Linked DNA regions of Homo sapiens: regions 1 and 3 are each reported to be linked to region 2. The links are microRNA targets in miRTarBase. Many come from high-throughput screens and were not tested one by one. Region 2 holds a microRNA gene; each other region holds the end of a gene's coding sequence.
What was found. Region 2 holds the annotated microRNA hsa-miR-7110-3p (UCUCUCUCCCACUUCCCUGCAG, at 1,265-1,286, shown strand). A microRNA usually pairs through its seed, bases 2 to 8, with sites in the 3' UTR of a target mRNA and lowers its output. Matches are read on the target gene's strand: a 7mer-m8 pairs with bases 2 to 8, a 7mer-A1 pairs with bases 2 to 7 and ends in A, and an 8mer does both.

Region 1: the mRNA of CCBE1 is a reported target of hsa-miR-7110-3p. Seed matches in the 3' UTR shown: 7mer-A1 at 1,725-1,731 and 7mer-m8 at 1,724-1,730.
Region 3: the mRNA of TGFBR3 is a reported target of hsa-miR-7110-3p. Seed matches in the 3' UTR shown: 7mer-A1 at 434-440, 7mer-A1 at 347-353, 8mer at 345-352, 8mer at 343-350 and 7mer-m8 at 342-348.

The regions. Positions count from the first base shown.
Region 1 is chr18:59,433,284-59,437,334 of GRCh38, forward strand. CCBE1 (collagen and calcium binding EGF domains 1) reads right to left here. Exons shown (of 11, transcript NM_133459.4): 11 at 1-2,858. The coding sequence ends at 2,625. Among named protein-coding and RNA genes, the nearest start is that of LMAN1, 76 kb to the left of the region's middle.
Region 2 is chr3:123,160,594-123,166,162 of GRCh38, forward strand. It overlaps MIR7110 (microRNA 7110), which reads left to right and starts at 1,201; the gene lies at 1,201-1,286. PDIA5 (protein disulfide isomerase family A member 5) reads left to right here. Exons shown (of 17, transcript NM_006810.4): 16 at 728-862; 17 at 1,287-1,511. The coding sequence ends at 1,367.
Region 3 is chr1:91,681,055-91,685,105 of GRCh38, forward strand. It overlaps TGFBR3 (transforming growth factor beta receptor 3), which reads right to left. Exons shown (of 17, transcript NM_003243.5): 17 at 1-2,803. The coding sequence ends at 2,685. Among named protein-coding and RNA genes, the nearest start is that of CDC7, 180 kb to the left of the region's middle. RefSeq lists enhancers at 2,702-3,205, 3,685-3,764.

The DNA of each region.
Region 1 (4,051 bases), not on the chromosome of region 2:
GGGATGGGGTCTTGCTATGTTGCCCAGACTGGCCTTGAACTCCTGGGCTCAAGGGATCCTCTCGCTCACTTTTTTTAAAGTGAAAGTTTGCTTTCACTTTAAAAATGTTAGTGGAGAGTCACCAGGAATTTTGCATAAATGAGACATAGAGGAGCAAAGTGTTCATGAAAGACTCGGTCACATGCTGACTGACATGAGTCCTGCATTTCCAACGTGGTAGGAAGAAGGGAAGGAAGACTGTTGCCACTAGAGGTTTGCAAAGCCCCTTCCTAACATTCTTAAGGAAGAAGACTGAAAGGTGGCATTCAAACACAACAAAAGGGATATTTTTTTTTTTTTGAGACAGAGTCTCGCTCTGTCGCCCAGGCTGGAGTGCAGTGGCACGATCTCGGCTCAGCGCAAGCTCCGCCTCCCAGGTTCACGCCATTCTCCTGCCTCAGCCTCCCGAGCAGCTGGGACCACAGGCGCCCACCACCACGCCCGACTAATTTTTTGTGTTTTTAGTAGAGACAGGGTTTCACTGTGGTCTCGATCTCCTGACCTCGTGATCCGCCCGCCTCGGCCTCCCAAAGTGCTGGGATTACAGGCATGAGCCACCAAGCCCGGCCTTTTTTTTTTTTTTTTTTTTTTTTTAATGAGACAGAGTCTCCCTCTGTTGCCTAGGCTGGAGTGCAGTAGCGCAATCTAGGCTCCCCCCGCAGGTTAAAGTAATTCTCCTGCCTCAGCCTCCTGAGTAGCTGGGATTACAGGTGTGTGCCAACACGCCCAGCTAATTTTTGTATTTTTAGTAGAGACAGGGTTTCACCATGTTGGTCAGGCTGGTCTCGATCTCCTGACCTTGTGATCTCCCCGCCTCAGCCTCCCAAAGTGCTGGGATTAGAGGCGTGGGCTACCACACCCGGCCAAGAGGGATTTTCTTTAAGCAAGCTTTCACAGTAGTGGAGTTAAATGATGTGGGCTAAAAGGTGGAGGCAAAAAAGCCAAAAAGAAATGGGAAAGGACATGGCAGGATGGGAAATTCCAACATGAGCTAATATGAGTGTGAGAACGATCATTTGCAGGAGAGTGAAAATCTCCCGCAAAGGTAGATAAAGAGCCACTTTGTGTGTCCAGTGAGAAAGTGGACTGTGAGTAACCTATAAGCTGCTCATTGGAAACAAGAGGGCCCTCAACAACGTTACAAAGGAGCAGATCATCCTTCTGGTCTCTTGCTCCTGGTGCTTCTGAATCCACAGCAAACCTTGGCAGGAACATGCTTCCCTTTGCCACCCAGAGGTGCTCTGAGAAAACACTCTAACTCACTAGGAGGTGGAGATATAGACCTTTTTCTGAACTGCTTCTCACATGCAGGGGAAAATAAATCAAAGAGAAGGCCTAAAAGAACTGGAACTTGGACTAAATTAAAGAAAATTAAGAAAAAATGAGAATAGGAAGGAAGTTTTTGCAAACAAGGAAAACCACTATTTTTTTTTCTCCCCATCCAAGATAACTTTCAATAGTGTATTACTCTCAATATGTTGGTGGCAAGCTTGGTTGGCTCCAGACAAAAACTTGTAATACCCAAGGAGAAAAAATTTACCTACCGCTGCTGATGGCATTAGTGAGGTCAGCCCAAGCCAGCAACCTCCTTGCAGACTTCAGCCCCACTGTATATTGGTTCAGCCTGGATCATGGCACCTAATGGTACCTTCTGGGCACCTGCTCAGAACCAGGAATTCTGCACCTCTCTCTAAGCTCAGCCAGTTTATTGAACAAATAATCTATATTTATAGAGCAGACTCCACTGTTGATTAAACAGCTTTAAAATATTATAGCAAACGAGAGCCCATTGTTTTAATGTGAATCCAGGCATTTCACTTTGTTTTTTTGAAAAGAGAGTTTAATCTTCTTCCCTAAATAGGATACTTACAGATAAGCATGGCATGAAACCTTAAGCACCGTATTTGAATTTTAGAATGTGGCAATCTATATAACAGTAAATATATGACTGTGATTCTTTTCTATCTTCTCTAAACGCCATTCAATTCTCTCCTCTCTTTAATTGAATTTGGGAAACAAGGTTTGACAAAGGGATACAATATTTAAAGTCTACTAGAAGCACAAGGAAAAAATTCTCCACCAAAGCACATCGACACGTTTGTCCTCCCCACCCCTTTTTAACTGAAGAGCCCCAATTTTGATACTAGAGGAGTTATGGTCTATTGTGAACACACATCTTAGAAGTAGCCTCACATTTTCTTAGAGCTCACTTTGTCATTTTCCCCCTTTTGATACTCTGCCAAATTTAACTTCAAGAATTTATGATTTAAGACACTGTGAGAGTACTTAAATCCAAAGTTCCTGGAAAAATAGGATGTAAAAGAAAAGTTACAATGCAAACCACCCCAATGGACTCTTAGTGAGAAGCAGGTAAATCAATCATTCACTCCCTCATGTCTGCAGGCCTAGGAGGGGACTCTGAAAATAGCATCGTATTTGGAAGAAGAGGAGTGGAGAGACGTCAGGAGAAGAGAAGAGAAAAATGTATGTTTTCTAGGTCTCCAGTGGTCTTTCTTCTCTTTAGATGGTTTAACTGCAGGTGAGTTGATCTTTCTCTTCCTTTGGCGTGACGGTGTTGGGATGTGCTATGGGTAGAAGTCTCTGGGGGCTCTCAAGTCTCTTGTCTCAGTTCTTCTTGGATGGTCATCTCCAGAGCCCAGGTCCATGGCTTCTGGGTAGCTGGGAAATTCCTGAGGTAAAGGGAACTCCTCTGCTGAAGAGTGAGTCCGGTGCCCGAACACCTTTTCCTGCAGCTCAGTGATGTCATTGCGGATGTCAGCCAGCATAAGTAGCAGGAAGTCGAAAGAACCAGGGGGTCCCTGTGTACATGGGAGGAATCAAAGCTAGAATACGACAGACAGCAATGGCCTCCGGGGCTCCATGACTTGACCTGCTGCTTGCTGGCAACTACTTTCTCAATAACTCTGTGCCCCAAATGGAGCCAATGTGAGGACTGCTACAGGAGCCTGGGGGTCCTCCATATTGTTTTCTAATTCTGTCACTTCTCAGCTGAGCTTTGGTGATGTATTCACCTTTCCTCCCTCCTAACGCTTTATCAAATCCAGTAGAGGAAAGGATATAAGAATAACTCTCCTAGGTTACTTTCCAAAGCAGTCTGGAAGATGCTTATGAAGGCAGCAGAGCAGTGGTTAAGAGACTGGGGTTCTGTTGGATTTGAATCTCATCTCTGCCGCTTACTAGCTGTGTCATCTTAATTTCTTGTGGTTCAGTTTCCCCATCTGTAAAACGGGGATAATAATAGTCCCAACTTCATAGGGTTTTGTAGGATTCATAAGTGAGGATTTAAGCAAGTAAATACGTGTAAAGGGCTTTGAGCATAATACGTATTCAAAAATGTTATCTGGGCCAGGTGTGGTGGCTCACGCCTATAATCCTAGCACTTTGGGAGGCCGAGGTGGATGGATAGCTTGAGCCCAGGAGTTCAAGACCAACCTGGAAAACATGGTGAAACCCTGTCTCTACAAAAATTTAACAAAAATTTAGCCAGGTGTGGTGGTGGGCACCTGTGGACCCAGCTACTTGGGAGGCTAAGGTGGGAGGATCACTTGAGCCCAAGAGGTCGAGGCTGCAGTGAGCCAAGATTGTGCCACTGCACTCCAGCCTGGGTGACAGAGTGAGACCCTGTCTCAAAAAAAACAATGCTGTTATTTTTTAAAAGCAAAATTATTAAAATGTTTATAAGATGGCTGACTATAAGCACAAACTAAATGAAGTTGAGAGGATGTTGTAAAGACGTCAACTCCTCGTTGACTAGGAAAGGTCCAAACAAAATCTTCCTAATTTTTCTATGTATTGAGTATCCTTTATCATCATATAGTATTTACTAAGCCTTAATTTCATATAGCGCTGTGTGGGGCATGGTAAAAAAGAAATGCACAAACACGCATGTTCTGGGCTTGTCAGAAGCTTGTAGTAAAATCGTTATCATCTCCCGCAACTGCTGCTACAGCAGCGGGCACCGTGGAAGCAGAGCTTACACCGTAAAGCACTA
Region 2 (5,569 bases):
ATTGTCCCTTTATCCAACCCCTGCCCAGACACTGAGCCCCTAAGTGGGGACAGAGCTTGTATATGGGGTTGGAAGAAGTGACTGTAATAGCAGCTGACATTTCCTGACCATGAATCTGGTGCCAGGTTCTGTGCTCACTGGCCTCACTGGAATTCTCTTATTCAGTCTTCACAATATCCTGATAGCCTAGATACTATTATTATCCCCATTTTACAGCTGAAAAAAATGAGGCACCAAGAGGCTGAGTTATTTTCCTTAAGTCTTACTGTCCAGGCAAACCAAGAGTGCACTTGGGGAACTTGACTTGAAAGCTCTTGCCCTTAACCTTGGCACTATACTGTCCCCCCAAGCTAATGTTCCGGAAATATTAGTGGAGAAATGATTAAATCCTACAGTCCCTTACAGATAGCACCACAGAACCTGTGGTGTTTACAAATGCTTTCAAGTCATCATTTCCTTTACGATCATCATACTCTTGATTTTAAAGGACAGTCTAAAGGCACTCCAGGCCGAGTCCCCTAACCTTACCCATCTGGAAATTGAAAACAAGCACCATCAGTCTCCAAGGAGTCCTGAGCTGGGGGTGCTTTGGTTCAGTTCCTACCTGCCACTGAGGAGAAAAATCAGAGTGGGCCTGTGACGTGGACTAGATGTGCAATCTGTGTTGTGGGGTCCAGGCCTCAGCCTGGGGACACCCTGTGCCAACTCTCTTTACCTTGGCTCCTAGATTGCCTGTGCCGCTGTTGACTGTGTCAAAGACAAGAACCAAGACCTGTGCCAGCAGGAGGCGGTCAAGGGCTACCCCACTTTCCACTACTACCACTATGGGAAGTTCGCAGAAAAGTATGACAGCGACCGCACAGTAAGTGGGGGAGAGGCGTCTGCCCAGAGCTCTCTCTCTGCTGATGGGCAGGGAAACTTCCACTGAGGAGGGGCAGCACTGGGCAGCATCCCAGAAACTGCAGAAGTCAGCTGGAACACTGCACCGAGAGGCCCAGGCCCTGGGCCTGGCTGAGGCTTGACATTGTTGGAGGAGAGTCCCAAGGGGTTGCCACAGATGTCCTGTCCCCAGAGGCAGGCTGGACTCCAGATGCCGAGGGTTTTCTCACTTGCTGGTCGGGGCTGGTGCAAGCCACGCAGACCCTCTCCACCTTGCAGAAGTCTGCCCACCTCTCCCTGTCATAGGAGTGACCCCCTGGAGGGGCTGGGGGTGTGGGGAGAGAGAGTGCACAGCCAGCTCAGGGATTAAAGCTCTTTCTCTCTCTCTCTCTCCCACTTCCCTGCAGGAATTGGGATTTACCAATTATATTCGAGCCCTCCGGGAGGGAGACCATGAAAGACTAGGGAAAAAGAAGGAAGAGTTATAATTCCTGCCTCAGAAAAAGCTTTTCCATTACACTGTGAATGATACCTGTTTTGTTGTTTCTGAATTTCCACATGTTCTGAAGACAAATTTTTTATAGCCGCTTATGGCCATTTTGTACAATTTTGAAATAAAATTAAACCATTTATTTGGTGGTATGGTTTATTTTCGTGGAGCCTGTACTAAAAAAGGTGGATACTCACATCCTCCTCATTCCACCACCTCTGCTGGGAGGTACAGAGCAGTGCTCCAGTGCCCCATCTGCATGGAGGTGACTCCTGAGGGTGTCGGCCCCCTGTCAGTCATTTGAGAGCAGAACAGGGAAACTGGACCGCAGAATATCCTGCTGGAAAATGACAAGCTAATGAGAGGAAATACGTCAAGATGATCAATGACTTTGGGAGGCTGAGGTGGGAGGATCACTTGAAGCCAGGTGTTCAAGACCAGCCTGGGAAACATTATGAGACCTCATGTCTACAGAAAATAAAGTTGCTGGGCATAGGGGTACATGCCTATAGTCCCAGCTACTTGTAAGGCTGGGAAGGGAAGATTTCTTGAGCCCAGGAGTTCAAGGCTGCAATGATCTATGATCGCATGACTACTCCAGCCTAGCTAGAAAGCAAGACCTGTCTCAAAAATAGAAAAAGAAAAAGAAAGAAAAAAACAAAAGATGATCAGGGAAATTGGGATGCTGAAGCAAATGGTAACCAAACACTAGCTTCTTCTGGATCATTGCGGTTTCAGCATTGGTGTGTTTCCTCTGTGTGTGTTTTCCTGGAACTTACTTAGGTATTTATCTTTCTCCAGCTATTTGTCTTCTCTTCGTCTCTCCATTCCCTCCCCAATCTCCCTTTAAAGAAAATTAAGTTGCCGCTTCAGGGGCATGAATGGAGTGGGGGAAGGGGGGCTCTGTGCCAGCTGCTTGCTGTGCACCCTGGCTGGAAGGGATGGTGTGTTCTCGAGGTGCAGATATTAGATCTGCTCACCAGCCCCCACCACCAACCATAATAACCCCAAATCTTTACGCCACGTTTTCCATGGATGGGTGCCTTGCTCGGCCTCCTGCCTGTGTACATCTCCTTTTTGACCCACCTTTCTGGTGAGTCCTCCTGCTTTCTGCATTCCTGCGTGACTGACACCCCAGCCCTGTGCCCAGCGGTGCAGGCAGAGCCTGAGCACAGCAGTAACATGTTTTGTCTGCTTGGTGGTATTTCTCCATGGACAGCAGAGTGGCCTTGTGCTAGTATCTTGTCTTTAGTTATAAGTAGCGGTCCTAGAGTTGGATTCCTCCAGTAGTTCAGGGGGGCGTTGCTTAAGCTGCAGTACTTGGAAGCACGCTCTGGTGGCCTTGATGGGGACTTGGCCTGCAGGAACAGCCCTCCTTTCCTGGACCCAGCTCCCTTCCTCCTGGCCTAAGTCCTTCCTGCTGATGAATCTGCTGAGAGGAGGACAGAGCCTCCAAGTTCTTCACAGCTGTTTTGACGATGGTGCCACTGTGGGTGGTTTCATTAAGGGAAATCAAGGTTTTGAGAGCCCTTGTTCTGTGCAGTTCTCCAACTTTCCAATTGACCCTCCTGCCAGTTCAGCTCTTCTCTTTTCCCCTAAGCACCCACTTCCTTGGCAGTGGCCCCTGGACTTCACCCAAGGATTGGATATGAAAGACAGAAGCATACATTTAGACATCATTGAAACACAATTATTGAGTCCCTTCCTGTTGGGGACCATGAACATCTTACAAGGTGTCATTTAATCCTGACACAGGTGTTTACCATTCTAGCATGTGTGTGTCTGGACATGGGTCTCCTTCGTTATTTGGAGTATTTGTAGGGGGAACATATTTGCTTGTGTTTTTCAAAAAAGTTTTTTGTTTGTTTGTTTTTGGGTTTTTTTTACTGCACCTTTTCAATAATAATCTCACAAGAGCCACTTCCTGGCTGAGGACCACTAGTGCCCACCTGCGAGGCACAGGGCTTACTTTCTGGCCATTCCACATCCTCAGAGTTCAGATTTTCCTGGCTTAGCTTCTATTTGAAGACTTAAAAACATGAAATATTGTCAAATATAGATTTAAAGAAATTTTTTAACACATCATGAAATGGAATCCTCTTCACATCCCTATTTATTGACTTTGGGCATGACCTCAGCAAATTTCGTCGCAGCTCTGGGCAGCTCCCCCTGCGGACAGAACTCTCTTCCTCCACTCGCCCCCTGGCATCCGGGTTAGTTCTACTCCCAGTCACCATGCTTGGTTCTTTGTGGTTTCACTGATGTTTAGTGCAGACCTCCTCCCTCTGCCCCACTGGAGGGCTTGCTATCACCCTCCTCTGTTCGCCTGGATCCTGCGTTGCAGGCTGATTTCTCTGCAGGAAGTACGTGAGTTAGGGGAGAACTGATCCCCATCTTTATTCTGGTGCCCCTTGCCCAGCAGTGAGTCCCCATCACCACCTAACTGGAGCCTTCCGAGCAGGACCCTGTCTCTCTTACCTTCCTCATGCTGCTCCCTCCCCTTCTAGAGGTGTTTGGCTTCCAGGAGCTGTTCTGCGCCGGGCACGGGAAGGTGATGCTTCCAGGTTCAGAAGCTGGTTTTCTCCACCGCAACGTAAGAAGATGTGGAATCTCATCTGGAAAGCATCAGGCCCTCTTAGGAAGGCAAAGCCTATGTCCAGGGGTTACATCACCTGCCCACATCACATGGAATAACACAGGCACCAGCCCTGCCCGCAGGAGGCTCCCAGTTTGAGAGTGAGTGCACATTGGTGCTCAGAACCAAACTCTGTGCATTGTGCTCTTACTGTTTCCCATTCTTTTATTGTTGACTAGAAGAAGGAAGCTGATATTCTTAAGCTATCTATCAAAACCAAATTATGCTTATGGTCCCACCAAATATATGTCACCTCCAAAATCTTCTATTTTAGGCCAGTGTTATCCAATAGCCATTAGCCACATATGAGTATTGAGTACTTGAAATTTGGCTACTGCAGCTGAGTGAAGGTGTGTATGTCTATGCCTTTTTATATTGTGGTAAAATATACATAGCACACAATTTACCATTTTAATCATTTTTAAAGGTACAATTCAGTGGCACTAAGTACATTTACATTGTTGTCCAACCATCATTATGATCCATCTCTAGAACTTTTTCATCAACCCAGACTGAAACTCCATAACCATTAAAGAATAACTCTCCATTCCCCACTCCTCCTAGCCCGGGTAACCACTATTCTACTTTCTGTCTCTATGAATTCCACTATTCTAGGAACCTCATATAAGCAAAATCATACATCCTTTTGTATCTGGCATATTTCACTTAGCACACTGTTTTCAAGGTTCATTCTTGAAAGTATGTAGCATGTATTAGAATCTCATACCTTTTTAAAGGCTGAATAATATTCCATTGTATGTGCATACCATATTTTGTTTACCCATTCATCCATCAGTGGACATTTGGGTCAGTTTCACCTTTTGACTATTGTGAAGAATGCTGCTGTGAATATAGATGTACAAGTAAATACCTCTGTGACATCCCATTTTCAATTCTTTTGAAGGTGGAGTTACTGGGTCATCTGGTAACTCTATTTTTAGTTTTTTGAGGAATGGACAGACCATTTTCCACAGTGGCTGCACCATTCTGCGTTTCCACCAGCAAGGCACGAGGGTTCCAATTTCTCCTCATCCTCGCCAACAGTTATTTTCTGGTTTGGTTTCATTTTTAATAGTAGCCATCCTAATGGGTGTGAAGTGGCATCTCATTGTGGTTTTGAAATGTGTTTCCCTAACGATTAGTGATTTTGAGCATCTTTTTTTTTTTTTTTTTTTTTTTTTTTGAGACAGAGCCTCACTCTGTCACCCAAGCTGGAGTGCCATAGTGCCATCTTGGCTGACTGCCACCTCCGCCTCCCGGGTTCAAGCGATTATCATACCTCAGCCTTCTGAGTAGCTGGGATTATAGGCGCCTGCCACCACACCTGGCTGATTTTTGTATTTTTAGTAGAGACGGGGTTTCACCATGTTGGTCAGGCTGGTCTTGAACTCCTGACCTCAAATGATCTGCCCACCTCAGCGTCCCAAAGTGCTGGGATTACAGGTGTGAGCCACCTTACTCGGCCTTGAGCATCTTTTCATATGTTTATTTTCCATTTGTCTATCTTATTTGGAGAATAAGATATTCTCTTATTCTCTTTAAGTTGTTGCCCATTTTCACATTGG
Region 3 (4,051 bases), not on the chromosome of region 2:
TGCAAATTAAGGGTGTAGCCTGCAGAAATAACAAAAGACTGCAGATACAAGAGTTCAGCTGAAATACAACAATACTTTTAAAGAAACTTGTAGTACACGTTATAAAAGTAGAGCTTGTACTTTGTATTAAAACTGTAAAGTGTGAAGCAATTAGAAATACTGTAATGAGAAGCTAGGGAGAAAATACCTTATTTTTTTCATGTTCATTTTTTAGAAACATTTCAGAAATACTTAACGACATTCACTCTCCAATATGAGATTAGGTTTTATCGACACAGATTTCTTGATCTGAATAATAATTCTGACAATGAGACCCAAACAAATAAAAGGTGATTTTTTTCCTCTCTCTCTCTTTTAAAAAGATCTTTTGGTTTGCATCTATAAATTTGTAAATTAATTTTAAATTATTTATAAAATCATTGGCAATGTAGCATCTCTCTTAAAAATATATATTTAAATATATTACAGAAGGTTTTAACCCTGTCCTTCTAAGACATCAATCTTTTAATATCTCCTAATAGCTAATTTTCTTTTTAACACGATGGAAAAGATTTTTTAAAAAAGCAAAGGACTGATCGAAAGAATTCACAGTAGCTGAAATTAAACATTTCATATGGAGTAACTTAAATTTATCTAAAACACTTAAATATATCTTTATACACAAATTTTGTAGTAAAATATAGCTATAAGTGACTTAAAGACTCTAGTCTTCTTTGAAGACATCTTTAAACTTTTTTATACATAGAATATGCTGAAACAATACATTCCACCGAAGGTTAGGCAAAGCGCAATATTTTCAAACACAGGTAGCGTAATCTAGGTCCTCCACTCTGATACCCTTCTGTTAAAAAAAAATTAAAGGAAAAAAATTCTCTAAACTCATGTCTTCTTCGTTTGTATATGGAAATCTAGAAATTTTTCAGTAGATCAATGTAGATAGCCTGGAAATCTCAGCCCTAAAGTAATGTTTTAGTTAAAATGTTCCTTATTGAAAAAAAAAAATGTTCCTTATTGAATGTGTATATCTATCAGGTAAGTCATATTATTACTCAACGATTTGGTAAAAATGATTGTCAATTTCCACATACTTGTTTCCCATGTAGACACTGCCCTAAGGTTTTAAGCTTCATCAGGATTACCTACTGAGGTTCCATTCACAGACAACCAGGCATAACTTCCTTATTTTAAGGGCAGTGGGATTTGCTTATGAATATTTTGGGGGTAGAATCTATCTTGTTCTACTTATGGAATTCTAAGTTGTTTGGGGGAAATTCTGGAAAAAGAATAATTTGCAATGAAGCTATCTTCAGCAGTAAAATAATTTAGCATGATAATTCCCCCCTGGCATTCTTTTTTTTTTTTTTTTTTTTTAACAAGGAGGTATCACTGAGCTTATTTTAGCTGCAAAGTGGCATCATATTATTCCATTTAATGAAATTCACCTCAAGCCCTTTTTGACATATTAAATATATGGGATATATTTAAGGCAAGAGAAGTAAGGCAATCCAAATGAGTGCCCTTTTCCAATCTCAGCACTGTCTTGGTGGAATTGGTGACACTATTCAGATAACCAACTGGAGACCGACAGGATTTGCCATGCATTTGCATCTTGCTACAGTTTGGTTTTTATGAAAGGGCCTATTTTTTTTTAAGTTGACATATTTTGAGTGGAAACACTCACCCTACCAAATATACTTAAGTTGCAACTCTAAAAGCATAAGGACATTTTCAAATTTTCTCTTCTTCAACTGAGAAAATGAATGTGCCAGGTGACATATTATATACTTGTACTTGCATACACATAGAAATATATCACTGTGCAAATTCGTCCTTGACTTTATAACTGAATTTCACCTCAAATTATACATTAATTTGCAGAACAAAATATTAGGAATGGGCACAAATCTGTGGTTCCTGATTTTGGTCATTTTCAATTTCTGTAGGCCTGTAAGAAATACAAAATTTGCATTAAGACATTTTGCAGTGGTGTATGCAAGTATGGGAAGAAACAGGAAGCTGATAAGGTCATCAGCATTGGTTTTGGCCCAGGGCACAAGAAAGGAATGTTGCCTTAACACTTGTCAGGGTGCAGTCCCTGAGGGCAGCACCCATCAAGGGACACATCAGACCCCACAGGTTGTGGCAGCAAGGTCAGAAGTGTGCATCCAGACAAAGGTGCAAATTAGACAGGAGGATCGCTTAGAAAGCCTCAAAGCATTTCTTGTTTTACATCTTGGTTCAGATATAAAGAATCTTTGGCCGCATCTCCTCACTGGTTCTACTATCTGGCTATTAACCCTTTACCAACTCCTTGAGTCTGGGTAAAACTCAGGGCCCCAAATTATGGATGTTCTCACCTGGACAAAGCAGCATTTTAAAAACTGGCATGTGTTTCACATTGAAAACCCCCAAGCCTGTGAGGGGCTGGTGGAGAAGACCACCATTTTAGCTTTCTCACATGAATTCTAGTGTGGTACAGAAGCCCAGGGTCATGTTTATACTAGCCCTGGGTGTGGGGTGAATACAACGGGTGATCTTTATACTGAAATTCACTCTGTCTTTACAAGGGAACCAAAATCCAGCCCTCTGAGTCTGGACACGAGGCTCAGCCATTGGTCCTGCCCTTGGCAGTAGCTGAGCTGAGCTGGGCTGGGCTGGGTTGGGCCGGGTTGGGCTGGGTTGGGCTAGGCCGTGCTGCTGCTGGAGCAAGGCGTGCTCTGCGTGCTGCCGATGCTGTGGGCAGCACTGCTGTTTTCCGAGGCTGGCGGGGAGGTGGGGACTTGCTGCCTTCCTGCTGTCTCCCCTGCAGTTAATAAAGAAAAGGCAGAGTCAGAGAAAGACGCATATTATGTATGTGCATTCCTGAAAAGATCATTTATTCCGCATTTGCCATTTTAACTGATATTTTTCTCAACCAGGGCAGAAGCAACTAGACTAGGTCCTAGATGGCTGGAATACCTTCTAAAATAAGGTTTTGCTATTTGTTGTTTTATTTTTAAAGCATCATGAATGGGAAAAAGAAGACAGCTGACTGACAGGCAGCTCTAGTGGCTAAGACCCCTGAGAGTTGATGACAAAGTCCCTGGATTTCAGGGTCCACAACCTTTGATGAAATCACCACCACTTGGTCTGTGTGAGCTGGCAACTGACCAGCACCTGTATTCAGGAAACACTGTCCATCTTCTCTCATAAAGACACTGTAGGATTTGGAGGGTGTGACCTTTCAATTGTAGTTAAGAGAACCCTGGAAGTTTGGGAGCCTTGTTCTGAATGCACTTGTTAAAAACAGGAGTGAAATATAGACTTTGTCCTAGCTACAGTAGAGAGAGCCTTGTGTGCCAAACAGATAAATTACCTGAGAAACCGGGGTGGGGGATAGCTGCTATTGGAAAAACCTTTTGGGGAAGGGGTTTAGCTGTTTGCACATGGGGACTGCAGTTGCCAGCGAATGGCCTCTCTTCCCCACTGAGGTTCCCTGTGGGGTGCAGTGTGAGTATCTCCTAACACTTTAAGCATCCCACTTTTCATTACACACCCCACTGCATTTTAGCTAAAGCCATTCATCGTGCCAAATGTGCAGTGCTTTGGAGAGGAAGGAAACCTCAAGTCACACACATGGTTTGCATTTAACAGTGCAAAAGGCCCTAGAGTTAGTCTTCTCTTCGGCAAAACCGGCCTCAGTGCAACCCTCAAAAAATGGCTCTAGGTAGGGAAAAGCGATCAGGGCTCTCCAATAAAAAACACTGCATTTACTTTGAAAAGTCAGAGCATAAACTTCATAAACTTCTTGTAAGCAGCATCCCCTCCTTCAATGTGGGAAACCCCAGAGGGCCAGGCCTGTTTATGAATGAGCCTCCTCTTTCCTGTCATGCTGAAATACACATCTATCAGCCGGAGATAAGCAACCCTTCCAGCTGCTTCATTAAAACAAAACACTCGAGGAAAGGCCCTGCCCTCCAGTGCAGGAACTTGGCCCCATTACTTCCATTCTCTTTCTGGGGCCCCTCAAAAGCCTCTGTGAAAAAAGCAGTTCTGCAAAATGTAGAACTGG